Homo sapiens: one gene and its partners. The protein of the gene in region 3 interacts with the protein of the main gene of each other region in a pairwise test. Each region holds a gene or a part of one and is shown on either strand. Other genes may lie near its edges.

Evidence for each region. Proteins that work in one complex are often made in the same cells at the same time.
Region 1: the proteins of ZNF620 (region 3) and FHL2 interact in binary tests that used the Homo sapiens proteins (3 or more experiments, as listed by UniProt).
Region 2: the proteins of ZNF620 (region 3) and SLIT1 interact in binary tests that used the Homo sapiens proteins (3 or more experiments, as listed by UniProt).

The regions. Positions count from the first base shown.
Region 1 is NC_000002.12:105,389,052-105,396,342, forward strand, and holds part of FHL2 (four and a half LIM domains protein 2), read right to left. Parts: intron 1,177-7,291; exon of another isoform or gene 1,056-1,176; intron 1-1,055. UniProt on the Homo sapiens protein: May function as a molecular transmitter linking various signaling pathways to transcriptional regulation. Negatively regulates the transcriptional repressor E4F1 and may function in cell growth.
Region 2 is NC_000010.11:97,000,960-97,008,250, forward strand, and holds part of SLIT1 (slit homolog 1 protein precursor), read right to left. Parts: intron 5,762-7,291; coding exon 5,524-5,761; intron 3,865-5,523; coding exon 3,734-3,864; intron 3,264-3,733; coding exon 3,109-3,263; intron 2,034-3,108; coding exon 1,745-2,033; intron 1,411-1,744; coding exon 1,199-1,410; intron 392-1,198; coding exon 153-391; 3' UTR 1-152. UniProt on the Homo sapiens protein: Thought to act as molecular guidance cue in cellular migration, and function appears to be mediated by interaction with roundabout homolog receptors.
Region 3 is NC_000003.12:40,501,148-40,509,349, reverse strand, and holds the start of ZNF620 (zinc finger protein 620), read right to left. Parts: upstream 3,312-8,202; 5' UTR 3,212-3,311; exon of another isoform or gene 3,150-3,211; intron 3,047-3,149; 5' UTR 2,998-3,046; coding exon 2,974-2,997; intron 610-2,973; exon of another isoform or gene 576-609; intron 538-575; coding exon of another isoform or gene 403-537; intron 1-402. UniProt on the Homo sapiens protein: May be involved in transcriptional regulation.

The sequences.
Region 1 (7,291 bases), on a different chromosome or scaffold from region 3:
AGATCATCTTTCAAGAATTCATTCTTGGATATTTCTGTGTTTACAGAATAATTCTCTTCCAAGAGCAATAAATATGCAGCTGGACACATGCGGCAAGATCCGTCCTTCTAAATCACTCTTCCTGGAGTTAAAGAAAACATTGTCTGGACATTCTTGTGATAACATCACAAGATGAGGCTCTTGAGCACTTGAATTATTATTCTGAAGCCCAACGTATAAATATCCTTTGTACCGCAGCCATCTCGAGTTGGAGCAGCCATGCTGGCACAAGATTCAATGCTTTCCTGTAATTGTTCAGTTATTGGCCTTGAAAGTTGCTGTCATTTATTTCATCACAATTGAGAGCTGTTTTTCCAACATATATGTTTTTCCAATAAAGGGTGTGATTTAGCTGTGGGACAAGAGGCTCACTGCCCATTCCATGCCCACAAACATAAGAATAATAATTTGGGAATTTGAAATAAGAACGATGAAAGGACAGAGAACTATAAATTGCGGAATTGTAAAAGCTGGAAACAAATCCCCAGATTATCTATGACAACTTCCTCATTCTATGGATGGAAAAACTGAAGCCCACGCATATTTATGAAAAAGAGGGTCCACTGAGCTTTCTCAAATAGCCGTCTGACTTACAGAAAATGAACTCCCAGTCTAACTTGAAAGGCCGTCTGTGTGGGTCAGGACAAGCACCAGCCCTGCTAGGGAAGGGAGACAGTCTACAGCCTCTGTTAATGTCTGCAGAGCTCCATTTATGTTGGCAGCTGGTGAAAGGGGTACACCTGTTTTCCTCTGAGGTAATAATCGTGATCACGGTGCTCATATACCTGATATGTGTTTTCCACTTCCTCTGATTCTACAGGACCAGGACAGAAAAAAACAAAAACAAAAAAAATCTGGCCAGGTGCGGTGGCTCACGCCTGTAATCCCAGCACTTTGGGAGGCTGAGGCGGGTGAAACACGAGGTCAGGAGATTGAGACCATCCTGGCTAACACGGTGAAACCCCATCTCTACTAAAAATACAAAAAAAAAATTATCCGGGTGTGGTGGCGGGCACCTGTAGTCCCAGCTACTTGGGAGGCTGGGGCAGGAGAATGGCGTGAACCAAGAGGTAGAGCTTGCAGTGAGCTGAGATCGTGCCACTGCACTCCAGCCTGGGCGACAAAGCGAGACTCCGTCTAAAAAAATAAAAAAATAAATCTAAGAGAATAAACTCTGAAAATAAGTAGGGCTCCACATTTGCTCAAAGTACGACTGAGGTTATGAATGTCATCATGGTGAATGTCATCATCAGTGATATGATGAATATCATTATCAGTGATACCAGCTCCCAGCAGGAACAGTAGCAGCTGCTATCTGCTCAGTGGGTCCACCTGGGAGGAGGCACTTGGCCCTGTGGTTCAGCTCCTAATTCTACAGAATTCTTTCTGAGAGTGGTGGATCCCTCTTCTACCTTGTTCCTCATCTTCTAAGAGGACACTAGAGTTCTACAAAGAGCAGAGAGCATTTCTACTCCAACCAACAGGGCAGAGCATAAAATGAGCAACTGCTGCTACCTAGGAGCACAGCAGGATGCACTGTGTGAAAGCAGGCCCCTGAAGGAGTTCCACACAGTTACATACTGCACAAGCCCTGAGCATCAGAATAAAAAGTCCATGAGCTAATAAGCAAGCTCAGAGCTTCCCTTCTATTACAACATGTTTAAAAGTATACCTATTGTCCTGTATTAGAAATCTCCTATAACTTGCATTTTTTTTTTTTTTTTGAGACAGAGTCTTGCTGTGTCACCCAGGCTGGAGTGCAGTGGCATGATCTCAGCTCACTGCAGCCTCCACCTCCCGGGTTTCAGTGATTCTCCTGCCTCAGCCTCCTGGGTTGCTGGGATTACGGGCACACGCCACCACACTCAGCTAATTTGTGTGTGTGTGTATGTGTGTGTGTGTATGTGTATTTTTTTTTTTTTAGTAGAGACGGAGTTTCACCATGTTGGCCAGACTGGTCTCAAACTCCTGACCTCAGGTGATCCGCCTGCCTTGGCCTCCTAAAGTGCTAGGATTACAGTCATGAGCCACTTGCATTTTTTACATCCCATAAATACCTGATTGCTCATTCATTCACTGAATAAACATTGGTTGAGCTGGAACTATGTGTCTAAAGTCATGAAAAGTGCAGAAGATACAAAGATGAATAAAATGCAGGCCCCTCCCCTCAAGGGACTTGTTATCTAGTGAGGAAAAGAGATATATACCAAACAGACTACCAAGCCCCTTACTCAGTGCGTGCTGGAGGTGCACAGGTATGATGGGCACGCAGAGGAGGAGCCCCTGAGAGAGCAGGCAGGCATCCCAGAGGAGATGCTATCTGTGCTAGGAACAGGTCAGCCAGGTGATATGGCAGGTCAGGTCAAGGGGTGGAGTAGGCAAAGCCAGAGACATGAGAGACAGAGTAGGGTAGGCAGAGAGCCCAGGAAGATGGAAGACCCAGTCAACAGCCAAGGCAATGAGGGCCTGGATGCCTTGTTCATGGACTTGGGTATGCCTCGCAGGCAGTGGAGAAACGGACAGCCCAGTGAAAGTTTACTGCATGGAAGCCTGCCTTTACTATGCAAGACAGGGGGCAATGACTCCTAAAAAATGTATCAGGGTATCAGAGCCCATTTCTGAATGATTTCTTCAAATAAAAGTAGGACATCTTGGTTCTACAAGGACTTATTAACCTAATTGTGTACAATCCATTTACTCTCTGTGAACTCCACATCCCTCCTGACAGGTTATCAATAATTCCTGCTCCTTAGCTGGTACACAGGAATGCTGAAAGCATCAGGCAACAGCCTGCAGGGAGATGCCCAAACATAAGGCGCAACCCCTCCTTTTTATTTCACTGAATCAAATTCCAAATCACAGTTTCCTGGAGTTCTTATTCCTCACCAAGCTAAATCATTCCATGATGTCATTACCCCTTCGGCCCTGAATAGGGTATTTGAAAAAGCTGGATCTTAGGGTACAGGCTTGACTCCAGGCCAAGGGAACTGCAATGGGTGAGGCAGGTGCCAGGTGCAGCTCGGAGGTCTGGGGATGGCCCAGGGAAGGCTTTGATCTCTGAGTCTCTCGCTAGCCCAGCTTTGACTCAGATGTAAGAATAGGTCGGGTACAGAGGCTCATGCCTGTAGTCCCAGTACTTTGGGAGACCGAGGCAGACATATCGTTTGAGCCCTGTAGTTCAAGACCAGCCTGGGCAACATGGAGAAACCCCATCTCTACAAAAAACACAAAAAATTTGCCGGGTGTGGTGGCATGCATTTGTAGTCCCTACTACTCAGGAGGCTGAGGTGGGAGGATCTTGAGCCCAGGAGGTCGAGGCTGCAGTGAGCCATGATAGCATCACTGCTCTCCAGCCTCAAGGAAACAGCCTCATGGTGACACAGACCATGTCTCCAAAGAAAAAAAAGAAAAAGAAATAAAAAGGATGTAAGAATAAAGGTTCAGAGGGCCAGGGAGCAACAATGCACTCTACTACTCACAATTCATACTAATTTTAAAAGTTCACAAGCTCATCAGTGTGATCTATTTTTAAATTTTCAGATTCAAAAACTGTAAAACAAAGTATGAGTGGGGAAAGTATCAAAGCTGGAGGAAAATAAAGGGAAAAGGAAACAGAAAGAGTAAAGAGAAGGGGAGAAGGGTGGTGACAGGACAAAAAAAGGAAGGAGGAGGGTAAATGAAATGAGGCAGAAGAGAGGCAAGGACCCTGCATGCCAGGAAGCTTTTTTTTTTTTTTTTTTTTTTTTCTTGAGACAGTGTCACTCTATCACCCAGGCTGGAGTGCACTGGCCCTATCTTGGCTCACTTCAGCCTCCACATCCTAGGTTCAAGCAATTCTCCTGTCTCAGCCTCCCAAGTAGCTGGTATTACAGGCGTGCATCACCGCACCCAGCTAATTTTTTTTTTTTTTTTAACCAGAAAGATTTCGATCAAAGGAGGGGCTGCCATGACAGACAGCCTCCCTTGGCTTGCTGGCTCAGGCCTTGGAGTTCCAGGAGCCTGGCAGATCCCTACAGGTAAAGCCTGAAGAGGTCAGATTAGCAAAAGAAGTCTATTTAAGCATCCTTTTCAATGCACCTTTTATTGACTACCTACTTTGATCTGACCCCAATGGGCCCATTTTCTCCTCCCCCTTTGAAACCCCAAGTGCTTCTCCCTATCAACCCTGCTGCAGGAGGCTCCTCTAACATAGCCATTTCCTAAGGAGAAATCTGTGAACGTCCCCAAGCCCTTCCTGCATGCAGCCCTTCAACACATGCAAAAGCAGCTTCGGTAAGTCAGTCCCTGTATCTTTAGATGTCACCGGGGATCCGCAAGGGATATTCAATTACTTATCAATAATCAACCAGAGCTTTCCAGAGACAATTAGGAAAACTGGTCTATGTGGGCTCTTTTAAAAAATACATTATAAAAGTGCAGTGTTTTCATGCAATTGCCCCGTCTTCTACCAACCGTAAGCATTGGGAAGGGTGCCCACTACCTGTCGCTGAGACCTCACCAGCAGGGAACACACACAGGACCAGGGGCTTTGTGAATACTTGTGGAATGGATGAACAAATGAATTGACGGGTGGATGAATACAAACATGTCAGAGTACAAACATACAGGCAAAAATCAAGCATGAAAAATTAGAAACATATTATGTGAACAATCCACTCTGCATAGCAAACCCAACATGTAATGTGGTTTGGCATATGACATCATGAGCTTCCATCGCTGCCCTCGTCCCTCCTTCCAGATAAGCTGCTGCTTCCGCAGCGGATATAACTCTTCTTATTGTGTTTGGACTCCAATCCCATGTGAACACACAGCTGCACAGTCCAGGATGCAGCCTGGCCAGGTCAAGAAGCAAAAAGCCAGCTGGGAGTCGTGCCCACTTTGGGAAGAACGCACAGATCCCCAACACGGGCTCCAGGTGTCAGCAGAAGGCCCTGATGTTCTACAGACATGTGATGCCTATAATCAAAGATCCTCCATTCAAAGGCACGGGACTCTCACACCTGGAAATGTGCTCAGAGAATACCCCGCACCATTTTATTTTCCTACGGATGGGAGTATCTACACACAAAAACCGCTCACCCCCAACACTCTTCATTTGTCTAGCTAAACGGGTTGTTTTAAACAGAAATTCTGATAAAACGGAGAGGGCCATCATGTCAAGGAAAGTTGCTGTTTTATAAACTAGAATAATGGATCAAGCCTTGGAGTCCCTAAAGAGAGAGGATCTCTTGAGCCCAAGAGTTCGAGGCTGCAGTGAGCTGTAGTGCTGCCACTATACTCCAGCCTGGACCACAGTGTAAGACCCGGTCTCTAAAAAAAAAAAAAAATTTATATCAGTTGGATATGGTGATGTGTGCCTACAGTCCTAGCTACCTGGGAGACTGAGGCAGGAGGACTGCTTGAGCCCAGGGGTTTGAGGCTTTAGTGAGCTATGATGGCACCTGTGAAAAGCTACTGCACTCCAGCCTGAGCAACAGAATGAGACCCTGGGAAAAAAAAAAGAAAAGAAGGAAAGAAAGAAAGAAAGAGAAAAAAGAAAGAAAGAAAAAAAGTATCTAGCATCCACTTGAAATCTATTTTTAAATTGTTGGATTTTAAACAATCTTAGTTTGTAAGGTATAAAATTGACTATGCTTACCACTGTATAATATATTTACAGATTAATTTAATAAGCCTTTACTAAATGCATGTACAGACAGGTGTCAGAGGTGTATTATAGTTTACATAAACTGGTAACTTCCAACTTAAAAAAAATAAATAAACATCTTCATCTCTGGTGGTTCTGCATGAGGCAATGTTTGAATAAGGTAAACTGCTGTCTTCTGAATTATCTTTTGAATATTGAATACTAAAAATAAAGGGAAAACAATAAATATCAAATTTCTGATCTGAAGTCCATGACTACAAGAGGAGTTACACTTGTTTTGATGTCGTTCAGCCTTTTGAACCCAGCCGACAAGAATGTGTTGAGTAACCACTGTTTTCCATGTGCTACGTGAGGCACTGGGAAGCTGAGATAAAACACACAGTCTATGAAGGAGTTCCAGTCTAGTTCTAGCTCCAAATAATTTAAATCACCTTTAAGATCCCATCTTGTCATTTAATCTCAAAACACATCAATTGCAGCCATGCAGGACAACCATAGCTGCACACGCTAGAATGGCGGGTGGCCTCGGGTCCGTCAATCACACCAGTGTGGGGACCAAGGGAGACTCCATCCTGCATGCTATGGCTCTACCATGCCTTCCCTGAGTGAGTTACGAACACTTCTACACCTACAAAACGAAAACCACCCACTCTTCTTCATGGCAGGGGTCTCCTCTCACCTCCCAAGTGCGGCTCACTGTTCACTCTCCCAGCTATCTGAGGTGCCTATGACCCCCACCCCCATGCTGGCCTTTCTCTTGGCATCCAGCAGCTTCCATGAATGACTGGCCACCTCCTTCTCACTGCAGTCCTGCCACTCTGTGGGGTTTCTCTGGCGCACTGCAACAGGACTCTGTCCCGAGAGGCTTGCACAGTTCCTTCTGCTTCCTTCATTGACTGCCTGCTTCTTAGTGACTCCAAAAGTTGTATTAACCCAAGCAGACAGGTCTATTTCCTTGTTGACTGACAAGCTCCATATTTACATACTGCAAGGACATTCTGGCATTAATTCTGTTCACCCATGAAAACAGGGCAGCTGCTTCTGCCACAGACATCCCACATCTCACTCAAGACCATATGACGGGAGGATCTTGAAGCCGCAGACAGAATCAGGCTAGTAAAGGCGTGGGCCACCGAAGGCTGAGGATGAGTGTGAAGTCTAAGTTCACACCAGGCAAGACACCACCCACGAGCACTGGGATGGACCTGGGAGACCAGACGCTGCTCCAGACCCCTCGTGACATCCCCATGCAGAGAGCATGTTTTACAGCAAGAGGAAAGCCAAGACTCCCAGGAGCAAAGTAGTGATCAAATCTTAAAAAAAGGGAGAATGACAGTTGGTGGGGAGACTTTTTAAATAGATGTTACCAGAGAGCTGTAATAGTCAGGGTTTTCTAGAAAAATAGAACCAACAAGAGATGTACATAGAGAGATTTATCGCAATGATTTAGCTCACACAATTACGAAGGTGAAAAAGTCCCAAGACCTGCAGTCAGTAGGCTGGAGACCCAGGAGAGCCGATGGTGCAAATTGCAGTCTGAAAAGAGGAGACTCTATAGACCCAAGAAGAGCCGATGTTTCAGTGTGAGTCCAAAGGCGGAAAGGA
Region 2 (7,291 bases), on a different chromosome or scaffold from region 3:
GCTGCTCTGGCACCACCCCACCCAGGAGGGCCCAGCTGCCCAGGAGCCGTCCTGTGATGACCTGCACCCCAGCCCAGCTGCTGGCGACTGTCTCCGCTGCTGCAGCGGCTGGGGCCCCTTGCCCGCCCTCACCGGCCTGTCCACGCCCAGCGCTATGCGCAGAGGGCACAGCCACACTTGGTGGGCTTTTCCACCTCCTCGGCAAAAGAGGTCCCATCGCTGCACTCAAAGGTGAACTTCCTCCGCTTCAGCCGAAGGCCCTGGCAGCAGCCCTGGCCTGGGCACGAGCCCCGGCACTCCACCCATGACAGGGGGCGCGTGGTCTGGCAGATGGCATAGCCCCTCTGGACCTGGTGAAAGTCCCGGACAGGGTCCCCCCGGCACTCGGACTCTGGATGGGACAGACACCAAGAGAAAGCCTCAGGGCACACCCATGGGTGAGCTGCTGCCTCCAGGGAGGCAGGAGGAAGAGGAGGAGGAGGGCAGCATCTGTGGGGTGGATCCTTTGGCTCTCAGACCCCACCTCTGTCCCCAGCATACTTCCGCCTCCCACTGACATGCACAAGCTTCCTCCCAGGGCCTACAGTCTGGTCCTAGCGTCAGGGCCCTCCAGGACAGACTGAACTGCTGGAGGGAGGGGGGGTCCCCATTGCTAGAGGCGTGCAAGAGAGGCTGGAGGCCCCGGGGGCAATAACATTATGAAAAGGATTCATGCTGGGGAGGGGATAGCCTAGGGGACCCTTAAGGTGCCTGAGTTCTGGGTTTCTCCAGCTTCTCCCTGCCCAGCCTTAGCAGTCCGGATTCCAGCAGAAGCCATCTTGGTCAAGCAGGCCAGGGAGGGCCTGGGAAGGAGTCCCCAACCCTCGGACTTCCTGCTGCCGCTCCCAGGTCATGAGGTGATGGGGCCAAGAGGCAGAGGTTGGGCCAGGAGCTGTTACCCTGGGTGGTCTCTTCTGCAAGGAGAGACCCCAGCCAGAAGAGGCGCATACCCTGAATAAGGGAGCTGCAGGGCAAACTGGGCCAGGAGAGATTGGGAGCAGTGCCCAGAGGGTGGAGGGACTCTGAAAGCCCCATAGTAGCCCATGGTACAGGGCTGGGAAGGGACAGAAGGGCTGCCGAGACTGGGAGGAAGAGTCAAATTGCTAAAGCAATTTGTGGGGGACCCTGGGGAGGGCACGTCAGGAGGGGGGCCCCTGACCTTGCTCACACAGCTCGCCCGAAAAGCCGGGGTCACACACACAGTGTGCCCCCTTGGTGCCTGAGGCCTGGCAGTGGCCATGCAGGCACTGCAGGCCTCTGCAGGGCTCTGCCAGGGCCCCGGCCTGGTTGCACAGTGCCCCCGAGTACCCATCCTGGCACTGGCAGCTGTAGGAAAGAGCGTCGAGGGGCACGCATTGCCCATGGACACACCTGGAGGAGACAGAGAAAAGGCGCTGTGAGGACAAACCCAGCCAAGCCCCACCTGACACAGCCCGCCCCACCTGACACAGCCCACCCCACCCAGCCCTGACTTCACAGGTCTTTAATCTGTTCCCAAAACTGAAACAAAGGGAGTTGCATGCGACTATGTGTGTGTCCCTATAGGCCTTGTCCTATTAATAAAAAGTGAAAGCCAGATAAAAGTAATAAAACCCTGGCTTAGGCTACATGTTCTAATATGGGTTGGAAAACTGTGAGGCAGCCCTTCCCATGGGGAAGGAACAGGTAGGCAGGGGCAAGGGCTCCCCCAGTGCCCCAGGCTCACTTGTGGCCATGGCAGGGGCCGTCAGCGGGCTGGTCACAGTGCAGGCCCACCCAGCCAGCCTCGCAGTGGCACATGGGCCCTGGGGTGGCATTGGGCTGGCAGATGCCATGCAGGCAGTAGAGCTTGCGGCAGGGTTCGCAGCCTGGCACCACGCCTGGCTTCATCTGCGTCTTGGTGAAGTCCTGCAGCTCGTTGTTGATGTACAGGTTTCGGATGCAACCGTGGAAGCCGGTGCCGTTGAGGATCTGCCACAGGCGGAAGGCAGCTGAGTTGACATCCACGGGCATCCCTGGGGTAGGGGAGGGAGCAGAGCTGGGCTGAGTAAAGCTCGGGCTATGCCGGGCACCCACCCCTGAGGTCTGGGCAGCTCCATGGCCTTCCCTCTTGCCTGCGGCCTCTGTCCTTCATCTCTGCAACCCTGATCCAAGGTCCTTTGCCACCTTGGAGGGCCCAGGCTCCTTGCCCAGAAGAAAGGGAAAAGCTGCTTCCTCTGTGATTGGAGCTGGGGCATCAGGCCTGGTGGTGGCCAGCTGCTGCGTGTGGCTCTGAGGTGCCTGTTCCTAAAGTCTGGCTTCCCTCGCCAAGGCGCCTTCTCTCCCTGGGACGCTAGCTTTTACCTCCCAGAGACCCCAGCCGTAGCAAAGGGGCAGGACCGAGACATCACGTGTGGCGCTAGGTCACTGCTTTTGTGGCTGTCCCTTCTCAGCAGCCCTCTGAAGTAGGGCTTGCTAAGCCCCATTTGACAGATGCTCATGACTGGCCTGAAGCTGCACAAGGAGTAAGCTGCGGAGCTGGGCTGAGGCCCAGGGCCATCCCTCACCTCTGCCCCAGCCTCAGCACGCCTCCCACAGGGTGGAGATGGCCCCACTGCATCCAGCAGCCTGCTCATCAATACCGAGAAATGCTTGCAGGTGGTAGACGGGGTCATCTAGCCTGCAAAGCCTCTAAGGCCAGCCGAGGCAGTCCCTGGTTGATACAGGGACTCTGTGCCTGAGTCTCTTGCAGTGGTTCTGGGTCTCAGAGGGCCCCAAGACTGGGAATGGACCTGAAGCCATTGAAAAGCCCCTTCTAGCCCAAAACCAAGAGGAAATGTGCCCAAGGTGTTGCAGATAGCTCGGACAGTCCCAGGGCCTCCCCTAAGCCAGACCTTGCACCCAACCCAAGCATCCATCCTCCTTGGTCAGTCTGGGCTAGGCAGAGAGCAGCTGGGCTCCAGGCAGCGAGGCCAGTCCACCTGCAGCTTGGCCACCACCAGGATCATCTTCCCACTTGGCATTTCCCACAGTGCAGTCCCTAGGCACCAGCTCTCCTGGCTGGCCTCAGGCCAGACAGCAAAAGAGGCCCCGCCAGGGCCAGGTCCTCACCTCCCACATAGAGTGGCGCCTCGCTGTTGAGCGTGTAATGTTTGCCAAAGTTGTCCATGGTCATGGGGCTCCCGCCATCAATGGAGAGATTCACCATCTGGTCAAAGGCAACCAGCTCAACGGTGTGGAATTGCCCATCGTTGATCGTCTCAGCACTGGAGGAAGAGGGGGTTCCCCGTTCCAGGGAGTGGGCATCAGTCTGGACCATCCCTGCCTGGGCACTTCCCCAGAAACACCAGTAGCTGCTTCCCAGGAGACCAAATATCTAAGGAAAAGGACTGTGGGGGCTCAAGGGTCTATCGCATGATCCCTTTCACTCCCCTTCTTTGACTCCCTGGGGAAGGCTGAGAGGTTTGAGGCAGGGGTCTCAAACTTACAAGTCTCCCCCTCCCCATTAAGGAGCCTCCTCTAAGGTGGTGGTGGGATGGGGAAGGATGGGGCCACTGCACAGGCCTCAGAGACCTCAGCCCCAAGCTGGGGCTAACCCAGATGGTTCAAGTGTCCTTCAAACTCAGGCAGCCCAGGTTTCTAGAGGTCTCGATAACCACCTGCTTTTGGCCCAGGAGACCTCGCCCTGGCAGTCCCGTACCCCTGAGGGCAGCTGGGGGGCATAAGGAAGCCCTACCTGTAGATGGCAGAGCTGGGGTAGCTGCCTGGGTCGTAGCTGACACGCACATGGCCCTGGTACAGCTCAACTGCAATGTGGTCGTTGTCCCCGTTGTACAGAAGGATCCCATTGTCCTCTGCCGTGGAGACCTGATGGGCAGTGGCACTTTCTCTCCCACCCCACCCCATGCAGCAGCGGCACAGGCTAGCAGATGGGGCAGAGAGGGCACCCAAGATTGGAAGAGAGATGCTCTGTGCAGAGCGCTCTTCCCCCACCTGGCCAGCCTCCCCAAGGCCATTCCTCCAGGGGGCACCAATAGGGGCTGCAGCCTCTGGTTCAAGCCCCATCCACTGCCAGCCTGGCCAGGTCCAGGCAGGGGAGGGTGATGGGTCCCTGAGGCCTGGAAACTCTGTGCCAGGAAGAGCAGCCAGGAGACCTCAGGACAATCTTCCCAGAGAGGAAAATTAGACTGGGACCCCTGTCTGCTGGGTGTGGGTAGCCTTGCCCTGTGGGCCTTGGGGAGCTAACTGCTCAGGGTGGGAACTACAGAGAGGACAAGTTCAGGAAGGCTCTCTGACAGCCAGAGTCATCCAAGCCTAGTGGAAGGAGCCACTCAGAAGGTAGTGTCTGTCGCTGGAACTGTGCAAGCAAAAGTGAGATCTTTGCCTCAGGAGGGAGATCCCTCTAAGATGCTGTAGGAGCCATGATCATTTTTCCCTGCCTTGTCCTGCTCCCTCCGTTTCTTCTGGTAAAGACCCTGAGCCCCCTGGTCTGTGGAGCTGGGCATATGACCCAAGCTGTCCAGTCACACTGCCCCATCTCCTTGGACTCAGCAGCTGGTTCAGAGATGGGCATGTGACTAACGCCAGGCCAATCAGAGATCTTCCTTGAGCTGACCGAATTAGAGCTGGCAAGGAAGAGCCTTTGTAAATCAATGTCTGGTAAAAGATGAGGATAAACCAAGGATGTGCCCGAGGCAATGGCTGGTTAGGGTTTTGGTGAATTTTATTTTTGGCGGTTAGGCTAGCTGTTGTCTTGCCATGTAGACTATGTAAGTGGATAGGATGTTGGAGAGGTGACGTAGGGGAAGAGAGCAGAATGCGCATGTTTGAGAGGCTGAAGAGTTCTGAGAAAAAAGGAAAAGAGGACAAAAGAGAGGGAAGAAAGATGTGGCATTTGTGACAGGGAATGGAATTCGGGGGAAAGAGAAAGATGACTACAGAGGAGTTTAACATTCTTTATCATGTGCTGTGCAATATAAACCACTCTCCTCTCCATCCCCCAAAAGAAGTGTTTAGCAAAATATTGATATATTTCATCAATGCTGCTGAAGTGGGAATTGCTTTATTTTCCCCTCAACATGAAGATGTTCTGAGATGGAACTGAAGGCATGAAAAGGATGAGTTAAGGGACCCTAGGGACATTTGGTTAAAGGTATAAGCCCAAAGTTAAATCTGGCCACATTCCAGGCACACATAGAAAGCCTGTCTGCAGCACTGGAGGCAGACACTGAGGAGTAGCTGGGACAAGAAATGGTGGGAAGGGATGATGGCAAGCCTGGTTTTCTGGATTCAGTTACCCATGAGACCATGTCCACCCCTGCCCTGGTTTTGTGACACTATAACCTTTCTAATTGTGCTTAAACTAGTTCAAGCTGAGATTTTGATACCCATATGCAAAACGTTTTGATTACACAGAGTCCTTCCAGTTCCCCAGGCACCATGCAGGGATGTATCCTGATGCTCTGGCCTAAGCCAGGGTCGCCTGCTCCCTGACTCCCCTCTGTGACCAAGCCCCCTGGCACGCACCTGCAACGTGATGTTGGCCCGTGGCCAGTTTTGCAGGTCAGTGAACTGCAGGTAAGTGTCCCGATCCACAAAGTTGACACTGAGCAACTTCTCACACTCAGGGCCACCGAAGCCTGGGAGGCACTGGCACACAGGCCTGTTGCCCTGGTCCACACAGTTGGCCCCATTCTGGCACTCAGTCCCCTCACAGGGGCTCTTGGGGGCAGGCAGATGGGGAGGGATCTCACAGAGCTGTCCACTGAGAGGAAAGGACATAAGTCAGAGAGGGCCAAGGAGGAAGGGAGTATCTTCCTCTCCCACAGCCCTGGAGAGAAATTCACTAAACATCTTGGGAAAATGGATTCTTAAAGCGACAGAAGATGCTCCTAATAAACACTTTTCATGAGAGAGCTGAGAGCCAGAAGGATACCAGGATACAAGTATGGTCCCTGGTCCAGCAGCGTCAACATTACCTGGACACTTGATAGAAATGGCAAACCCACTGAATCTGCTTTTTAACAAGATCCAAGGTGATTACTGACAATGTCAATAACTCTGCAAGGCAGATTTTACTATACCCATTTTATAGAAAAGAAAACTGAGACTTAAGACACAAGCATAAAGAGGGAAGAGTCAAGTTACTAAAATAAGAAATAAAAGAAGGGACATTACTACCAACCTCATAGAAATACAGTGAATTATAAAGGAATACTATGAACAACAATATACCAACAAACTAGAAAACAGATGAAATGCACAAATTCCTAGAAATATGCAAACTACCAAAACTGAACCAAGAAAAAAATAGAAAATATGAATAGACCTATAACTAGTAAAGGAATTAGTAATCAGAAAACTTCCCAGGCCCAGATGGTTTAACTGGTGAATTCTACCAAACATTTAAAAACAATAAATACCAATTCTTCACAAACTTGTCCAAAAAATAAAAAATGAGGGAACACTTTCTAACTCATTCTATGAGACCAGCATTACCCCAATACCAAAACCAAAGACATCACAACAAAAGATATCACAAAAAACTACAGACCAATATCTATTATAAATATTGTCACCAAAATCCTCAACAAATTACTAGCTAATCAAGTACAGCATAAAAAGGATTATATACAATGACCAAGTGAGATTTACGCCAGGAATGCAAGGCTGGTTTGACCTCTGAAATTCAATTAATGGAATACATGATATTGATAGATGAAAAAGCAAAAAAAAAAAGTTCATCTCAATAGATGCAGAAAAAGCATTTGACAAACTTCAACATTCCTTCATGACAGAAACACTCCACAAACTAGGAATAGAAGTGAACTACATCAACCTGATAAAGGGCACCTACAAAAAACACACAACTGACATCATACTTAATAATGAGAGACTGAATTTTTTCCTCCTAAGATTAGGAACAACACAAGGATATTTGCTCTCACAATTTCTATTCAATATTTTACTGGAAGTTCTAGCCATGGCAGTTAGGAAAAAGGGAAAGGAAAGAAAAGGAATGAAGGAAGGAGGGAGGGAGGGAGGGAGAGGGGGAAGGCAGGAAGGCAAGAAGGAAAGCAGGCAGGCAGGCAGGAAGGAAGGCAAGCAAGGGAAGGAGGAAAGGAAAGATAAATAAAATGCATCCAGAAGACATGATCTTATATAAGAAAATCCTACAGATTCCAGTAAAATGCTATTAGAATTAATGAAATAATTCAGCAAGATTGTAGAATACCAGATTAATGCACAAAAATCAAACAAAAAATGAAATTAAGAAAACAATTCCTTTACAATA
Region 3 (8,202 bases):
CTGGACACAAGAATCGCTTGAACCCAGAAAGCAGAAATTGCAATGAGCCGAGATCATACCATTGCACTCCAGCCTGGGTGACACAGTGACTCTGTCTCAAACAAAAGAAAAAAAAGAAAAGAAAGAAAATAGAAAAAGAGAATAAAAGGAAACAAAGAACAGATGGGACCATTACAAAACAAGTAGAAAGATGACAGGCCCAGATCCAGCCATATCAATAATGGTATCAAATGTAAATAATCTAAACATCCCAAAAGGCAAACATTGTCATATTGGACTTTTAAGCAAATAAGAACCTACTATCTGCTTAAGATAGTACATTGCTTGAAGAACCTTCAAGAAATGTACGTTAAATATAAAGACAGGGATAAATTAAAAGCAAAAGAATAGAAAAAGACATACCATGACAACATTAGCCAAAGAAAACTGTAAGGCCAGGCATGGTGGCTCATGCCTGTAATCCCAGCACTTTGGGAGGTGGAGGCGGGAGGATGGCTTGCATCTAGGAGTTTGAGAAGAGCCTAGGCAACCTTGTCTCTAGGAAAAAGAAGAGAGCCAAGCACAGTGGTCTGTACCTGTAGTCTCAACTTAGTCTCAACTCCTTGGGAGGATCACTTAGGCCTGGGAGGTGGAGGCTGCAGTGAGCTGTGATTGCACCACTGCACTCAGCCTGGGAGACAGAGTAAGATTGTCTCTAAGGAAAAAAGAAAAAAAAAAAAGCTGCAGTGGCTAAATTCATATAAGACAATGTAGATAGGTAGACAGTCCATATTCTGGGCCATAAAAGAAAGCTCAATAAAATCAAAATGATTCAAGTCATACAAAGTATGTTTTCTGACTGTAATGCAATTAAATTTGATATCACAGAAAGACTCCTGGAAAATCCCCAAATATTTGTAAAGTCAGTAACACACTTCCATAAGAGAATGTACAAAGTATTTTGAACTGAATGAAAATGAAAACACCATGTACTAGAATTTGCGGGATAATGCTAAAGCGGTACTTGGGAGGAAATGTATAGCACTAAATGCCTATTTTACAAAACAAAAAAAAAAGAAAGATCTCAAATCTGTGACTTCAGCTTCCCCCTTAAAACTAAAAAAAGAATAGCAAATTTAACACAAAATAAATATAAAAAAGACATTAAAGATCAAAGTGAAAACTAATGACATAAAACAGAAAAGTAATGAAACCAGAAGCTAGTTCTTAAAGAAAAATTAATAAAATTCATAAACCTCTAGCCAGTGACCAGAAAAAAAGAGAGAATACACAAATCATTAATATTAGTAATAAAAGAAGTGACATCACTGCAGGTAATAAAAGATAAGCACATATTATGAACAACTTTATGTGAATAATTTCTACAACTTAGATAAAATGGATAAGTTCCTTGAAAGGCACAAGTTACCAAAACTCATTTAAGCTGGGCGTAGTGATGCATGCCTGTAGTCCCAGGTACCTGGGAGGCTGAGCGGGGAGGATTGCTTGAGCCCAATTTGAGGTCAGCCTGGGCAACATAGAGAAAACCGTTGTCAAAAAATAAAAATAAATAAATAAAAAGAGATAACCAGAGTAGCCCCTGTATCTACCAAAGGACTCAAAACTGTACTTAAAAACCTTATCAGAAAGAAAACCCCATGCCTAGATAGCTTCACTGTTGAATTCTACCAAACATTTAAGGAAGAAATGCAGTCAACTCTACATAAATTCTTCCAAAATATTAAAGAGGAGGGAATATTTCTCATTCTATGGAACAAAGACATCACAAGAAAAGAAAACTGCAAATCAATACCTCATAAACATAGATACAGAAATTCTAAATAAAATTTTAACAAATTAAATTCAATATATAGTACTAATAAAATAATAATACACCATGACGAAGTCGGTTTTATCCCACCGCAGAGTTGGTTTAATATTTGAAAGAAAAATCATGTAATTCACCACATTAACAAAGAGAGGCTGGGCACGGTGGCTCACGCCTGTAATCCCAGCACTTTGGGAAGCCAAGGTGGGGGAATCACGAGGTCAAGGGATCGAGACCATCCTGGCCAACATGGTGAAACCTGGTCTCTACTAAAAATACAAAAATTAGCTGGGTGTGGTGGCGCGTGCTTGTAGTCCCAGCTACTCGGGAGGCTGAGGCAGGAGAATCGCTTGAACCCCAGAGGTGGAGGGTGCAGTGAACCAGGATCGCGCCACTGCACTCCAGCCTGTCGATAGAGCAAGACTCCATCTCAAAAAAAAAAAAAAAAAAAAACCATATGGTCATCTAAATAGACACAGAAAAAGCAATTGTCAAAATCCAACATCCATTCCTATAAAAACTCTCACCAAAGTAGTACTAGAAGAGAATGCCTGATAAAGGACATTTACAAAACAAAACAAAACAAAAAAGCAAGAAACCTACAGTGAACATCAGTCTTCAGTGTGAAAGATTGAATGCTTTCACTTTAAAAGCATAAATAAGACAAAGATATCTGCTCTCACCACTTCTGTTCAATATTGAAATAATGCTTCTAGCCAGTGCAGTAAGGCAAGACAAAATAAAATAAAAGGCATCCAGACTGGAAAGAAAGGAGTAAAACTATCTTTACTCATAGATGACCTATGTAGAAAATACAATGGAATCTACAAAACAGTTACTAGAATTGCTATACTGAAGAAGTAAGTACTTCTCCAAGCCTGCGGACTAGGGTGAAAGGGGTCTTTATTGGATGTAATAATGCAGATTTCCACATTTCATAATTTTTATTTTTAAGCTGGCTTCAAATGCCAAATCCCAACCAATCCCCCCACACTCACTAGTTTTCTAGTCTTAATTTGGGCATTCTCACCTCTCCATCCCTCTCATAGTGACAGATGCACAATGGAAGCCACTGGCCTACACAACTCAAGATCTGAATGCAGAGGTGACACCTGCTCTCTCTTGACATCTAAAGGGTGGGAGGGAGGGAGAGGATGCTCACTCACCTGGCGCCAAGCGGTCTGGAACATGGCTGGCGTCCCAGCTTCACACACTGCCTCAGGGTTCGGAGAAGTGAAACTGAAGAGAAAATAAAGAAGCACCGGTGAGATTGATGCTGCCTCGCACCCCGCAAATGCCCTCTGTGCTACTTGGGCCCCTCTCCTTTCCGCCAACTCCTCACCCCAAAAAGCAAAGGGGTTGCAAAACCAGGCAGAACAAGCCCCAGGAAAACCAATCAGTTACCCGGACCGCGAACCTCTTCAGCTCGGACCGCGAATCCCGCGCGGCGCAGGCGCAGATAAAGCGTGGAAATTCCACCTGCCGCCGACACCGGGGAAAGCTTGAGACCCTCCGCCGGAAGTGCGTTTTCCATGCCCCTCCTCTCTAGGAACCTGGGAAGTTGCCAGTCTCTGTGGTTTCCTACCCCCGCCGTCAGCGCCAGTGTCCCTACTGCCTGAGACAACACGGGCCCGAGCGGGCGGCCCCAGGCAGGGGTCCTGCAGCGCCCACACCTGGTAGCTCCTTCGGGGCATGACGTCTGGCCAGCTCAGGCCACAGAATGGTTACTATCCTGGGTATTATTCGTGGTTATCTGGCATTTGCCACTCTGGGTGTCCTTCCAGATAATGAAGGGACCATCGCGCCCTTCACATGCGCCAAAACTGTCTGGATTGTGTGGGTGCGCTGCAGTGGGAAAAGTGGGTGTGGGGAAAGGCGAACCCATTACTCAGAAGGCCGAATGTGTATGGACTACGTAGGTCCAGAAACCCAGCTGCACCACTTGCTAGTTGTGTGACCTGCAGCAAGTTTCTTTGCCCCGGTTTCCTTGTCTATTAAATGGGTATTATGATGGTGGTACCAACCTCTTGAGGCTGTTCAGGGTTAATTCATTAAATTAGTTAATTGATAGGTAAATTATTTACAGTTGTGCCTGGCACATAGTATGTACTCGTGAGTTTGTATTGTTTTGTTTTCCAATTGTGTTTTTTGAAGACACAAAATAGGTGCTGCTGGGACTCCAATATGTGGCGTGCTTTAGGGAAATAGATTTTTTTAAGGACAATTTTCGAAGTTTAGCGAAAGAGCTATTAACATTTGGCTTAGAGCCCTTTCCTGCCCTGTACTGGGATGTGTGTCCCGGCCCAGCCTGGAAACAGATTTTAGTTATTCCTTCCACAGGAATTAGATTTATCCACCACTTTCAAAACAAGTCCTGCCATGGAGAGTATATTATGTATCTACTGCTGGATAATAAACTACTCTAATGCTTTGTGGCTAAAAACAATAAACATTGTTATCTTTTGACAGTTTCTGTGGACCCAGAATTCAAGAGCAGCTTGGCTGGGTGGTACTGGCTGAGGGTCTCTGCTGAGGTTGCAGTCAGGTGTCATGTGGGGCTGAAGTCATCTGAAGCTTGACTGAGTTTGGAGGATCCACCTCCAAGGTGGTTTACTCACATGGCTGTCAAGTGGGTGCTGGTTGTTGGCAGGAAGCGTCAGTTCCTTCCCATGTGAGGGTTTTCACAACATGGCATGTAGCTTTCTCCCAAAGTGAGCAATCCAAGAGGCCAAGGCCAAAGCTTTTATGACCTAGTTTTGGAAATCATGCATCATGATTTCCTCAATACATTCTCCTCAGATTAGTCATGATTCAGTGTGGGAAGAGATACACAAGGTTTGAATGCCAGGATATGAGAACCATTGGGAGCCATTGTGGGGCCACCTAGCACAGAGATTTTAACTGTCACAGAAACAGTTCATTTTATAAAATCTATAGTATTTTCACTTTAAAGTTTATGCACAGCACTTGTTTTAAATAATTAGATTTCCAGAAACAATGGCATGACAAGGACATACATGTGCATACTGTCCCTTCGCTAAACCTATTAAAATGAACATTTACCATGAGTGGGTGCACATAAACGTACATACATATACACCACAAATTCTAAACAGTATTAGCCAGTGGAAAAAAACATGATAAATTGGACTTAATCAAAGTTAAATCTTCTGCTTTTCAGAAGATACTTTTAGAGAATGAAAAGACAAGCCACAGACTGGGAGAAAATACCAAAAATATTTGATAAAAGACTTGTTTCCAAAATATATAAAGGACTCTCAAAACTCACTCATAAGAAAATAAACCAATTTTTAAAAATAGGCAAAAGATTTGAACAGATACTTCACCAAAGAAGATATATGGAAAGCAATTAAATATTTGAAAAGATGCTCAACATTGTTAGTCATTAGAGAAATGCAAATTAAAACCGCAGTGAAACAGTATTACACACTTACTAGAAAAGCTAAAAGTAGAGACAACATCAAGTGTAGGCAAAGATGTATCAGAAGTGGAACCCATACAATACTGATGGAAATGTACAATGGCACAGTCTCTTTGGAAAAACTTTGCAGATTCTTTAAAAATTAAATATACACCTACCTTATTATCTAGCCATTTCACTCTTGTTATTTACCCAAGAGAAATGAAAACATATGTCCTTACATTACAAAGACTTGCATACAAATTTTCATAACAGCTTAATTTATAATAGCCAAAAACTGGAAACAATTCAAATGGCCATCATTTGAGTTAAGTTGTGGCATATCCATACAGTGGAATACTACTCAGTAATAACAAGGAATGAACTACTGATATATATGCAACAACATGGGTGAATCTCAAAATAATTCTGTGTTGTGAAAGACATCACACCAAAAAAAATAATAACTTTAAAAAGAGTACATACTGTGTGATAGCATTTATATAAAATTCTAGAAAAGGAAAACTATAGTAAAAGAAAACAGATTGGTGGTTTCTTGGGGCTGGAGGCAGGAGAGGAGCAGGCTGGAATGGAGAGATTATAAAAGGGCATAAGGAAACTTTTTGGGGTATGATTATGTTTGTTATCTTGATTGTGTTATTTTTTGAGAGACATATACATATGGCAAAACTTATCAAATCATACACTTTATGCATGGCTTATTGTATGTCAGTGATACCTCAATTTAAAAAATATATACATACTAGAAAGACAACATAATCTTAAAATGGGTTGTGTCCTTAAATCTAACCCTAGTTCTAATCCTGATAGGACAAACTTGAAGGAAAAAGCCATTCATCAGGGAGGAGAATCTGCAGGCTGAAAATGCTCTCTAAATTCTAGGAAATTTTAATGGGGAAAAACCAGCAACAAGACATATCCTAGTGAAATTACGAAAATTTAAGATTTAAAGTTCTGCAAATTTCCAGACTGAAAAGGAAGCAAAATCAGGCTGCCTCAGACTTCTTCTTGGCAATATTAGATGCCAAGACACACACATGGAGCAGGGTCTGGAGTAATGCTTCTCAAACCTTAGTGTGTCCACGAAGTCACCTGGTAGCATTGTCAAAGAGTAGAGTTTGATTCAGTGAGCTTGTAGTTCTGATAAATCTCCCAGGTGATGCCAATGCTGCTGGTCTTCAGGTGACAATTTGAGTAGCAAAGGTCTACAGAAGTGGTTATTTGGCTGGGCGCGGTGGCTAACACCTGTAATCCCAGCACTCTGGGAGGCTGAGGCAGGCAGATCACCTGAGGTCAGGAGTTTGAGACCAGCCTAGCCAATATGGTGAAACCCTGTCTCTACTAAAAATACAAAAAAAATTTAGCTGGGCATGGTGGCACATGCCTGTGATCCCAGCTACTCAGGAGGGTAAGGCAGGAGAATTGCTTGAACCTGGGAGGTGGAGGTTGCAGTGAGCCAAGATCGCGCCACTGCACTCCAGCCTGGGTGACAGAGCAAGACTCCATCTCAAAAAAAAAAAAAAAAAAAAAAAAAAAGTGGTTCTTTGTAGCATCACCTTATAATTACCTAGGGAATTAAAAAAAAAATACTGATACCTGGGACCTGCTCCCAGAGATTCTGAAATAATTGGTCTAGGATTCAGCCTAGGCATTGGTATTAAAAAACAAAAACAAAAACACAACATCCCAAGTGGTTCTAATGGGCAGTTGGGTTAAGAGCCTCTGGCATGGAGTGTTGAGGGAAATGAACTTAGTCTAGGAAGTATATGCTCAACATGGTACGGTCTTTGTAGAGTATCTATCAGCATACAACAGCCCCTTTAACTGCCCTCCTCACCAACAGCAGTGAGTCCCAGATAGCTGTGTAAATACTGTGTAATTCTGCTCCCCCACCCATAGTTGAATTAATCAAGAATGAATATATGATCTGAGTGGGGCCAGACCACACTCTTTCCCTGTAATTAGGAGGTGAGATAACGAACAGTCATTCCTTAGCAGGGTCTAACTGTGGACAGCCCTACTCTTGAACAAGTGCCTTTTTTTTTCTTTTTGAGACAGAGTCTTGCTCTGTCACCCAGGGTGGAGTGCAGTGGTGCGATCTTGGCTCACTGCAACCTCCACCTTTGGGATCAAGTGATTCTCCTGCCTCAGCCTCCCAAGTAGCTGGGATTACAGGCACCCGCCACCACACCTGGCTAATTTTTGTATTTTTAGGAGAGAGGGGGTTTCATCATGTTGGCCAGGTTGGTCTTGAACTCCAGGTGTGAGCCACTGTGCCTGGCCTTGAACAATTGTCTTCTGAATGTTTAGTTTCTGGTACAGAATGAATCAGAATTCAAGGCAATCTTGGAGCTTAAGTTTTTTTCCGCACTCCATCCATTTATACAGCTGCCATCACCGTGGAGTTTTCTGATGCTAAAGAAGGTGGGTGTTCTGGCCGGGCAGGTGTTTCATGCCTGTAATCCCAGCACTTTGGGAGGCAGAGGACGGGCCAATCACTTGAAGCCAGGAGTTCGAGACTGGCCTGGCCAACATGGCGAAACCCCGTCTCTATTAAAAATACAAAAATTAGGATGGGTGAGGTGGCTCACGCCTGTAATCCCAGCACTTTGGGAGGCCAAGACGGGTGGATCACAAGGTCAGGAGTTTGAGACCAGCCTGGCCAATATGGTGAAACCCCATCTCTGCTAAAAATATAAAAATTAGACGGGCATGGTGGCGGGCACCTATAGTCCCAGCTACTTGGGAGGCTGAGGTAGGAGAATCGCTTGAACCTGGGAGGTGGAGGTTGCAGCGAGCTGAGCTCGTGCCATTGCACTACAGCCTGGGCGACAGAGTGAGACTCTGTCACAAAAAAAAAAAAAAAAAAAAAAAAAAAAAAAAAAAAAAAAAAATACAAAAATTAGCCAGGTGTGGTGTGGTGACACGCACTGTAATCCCAGCTACTCGGGAA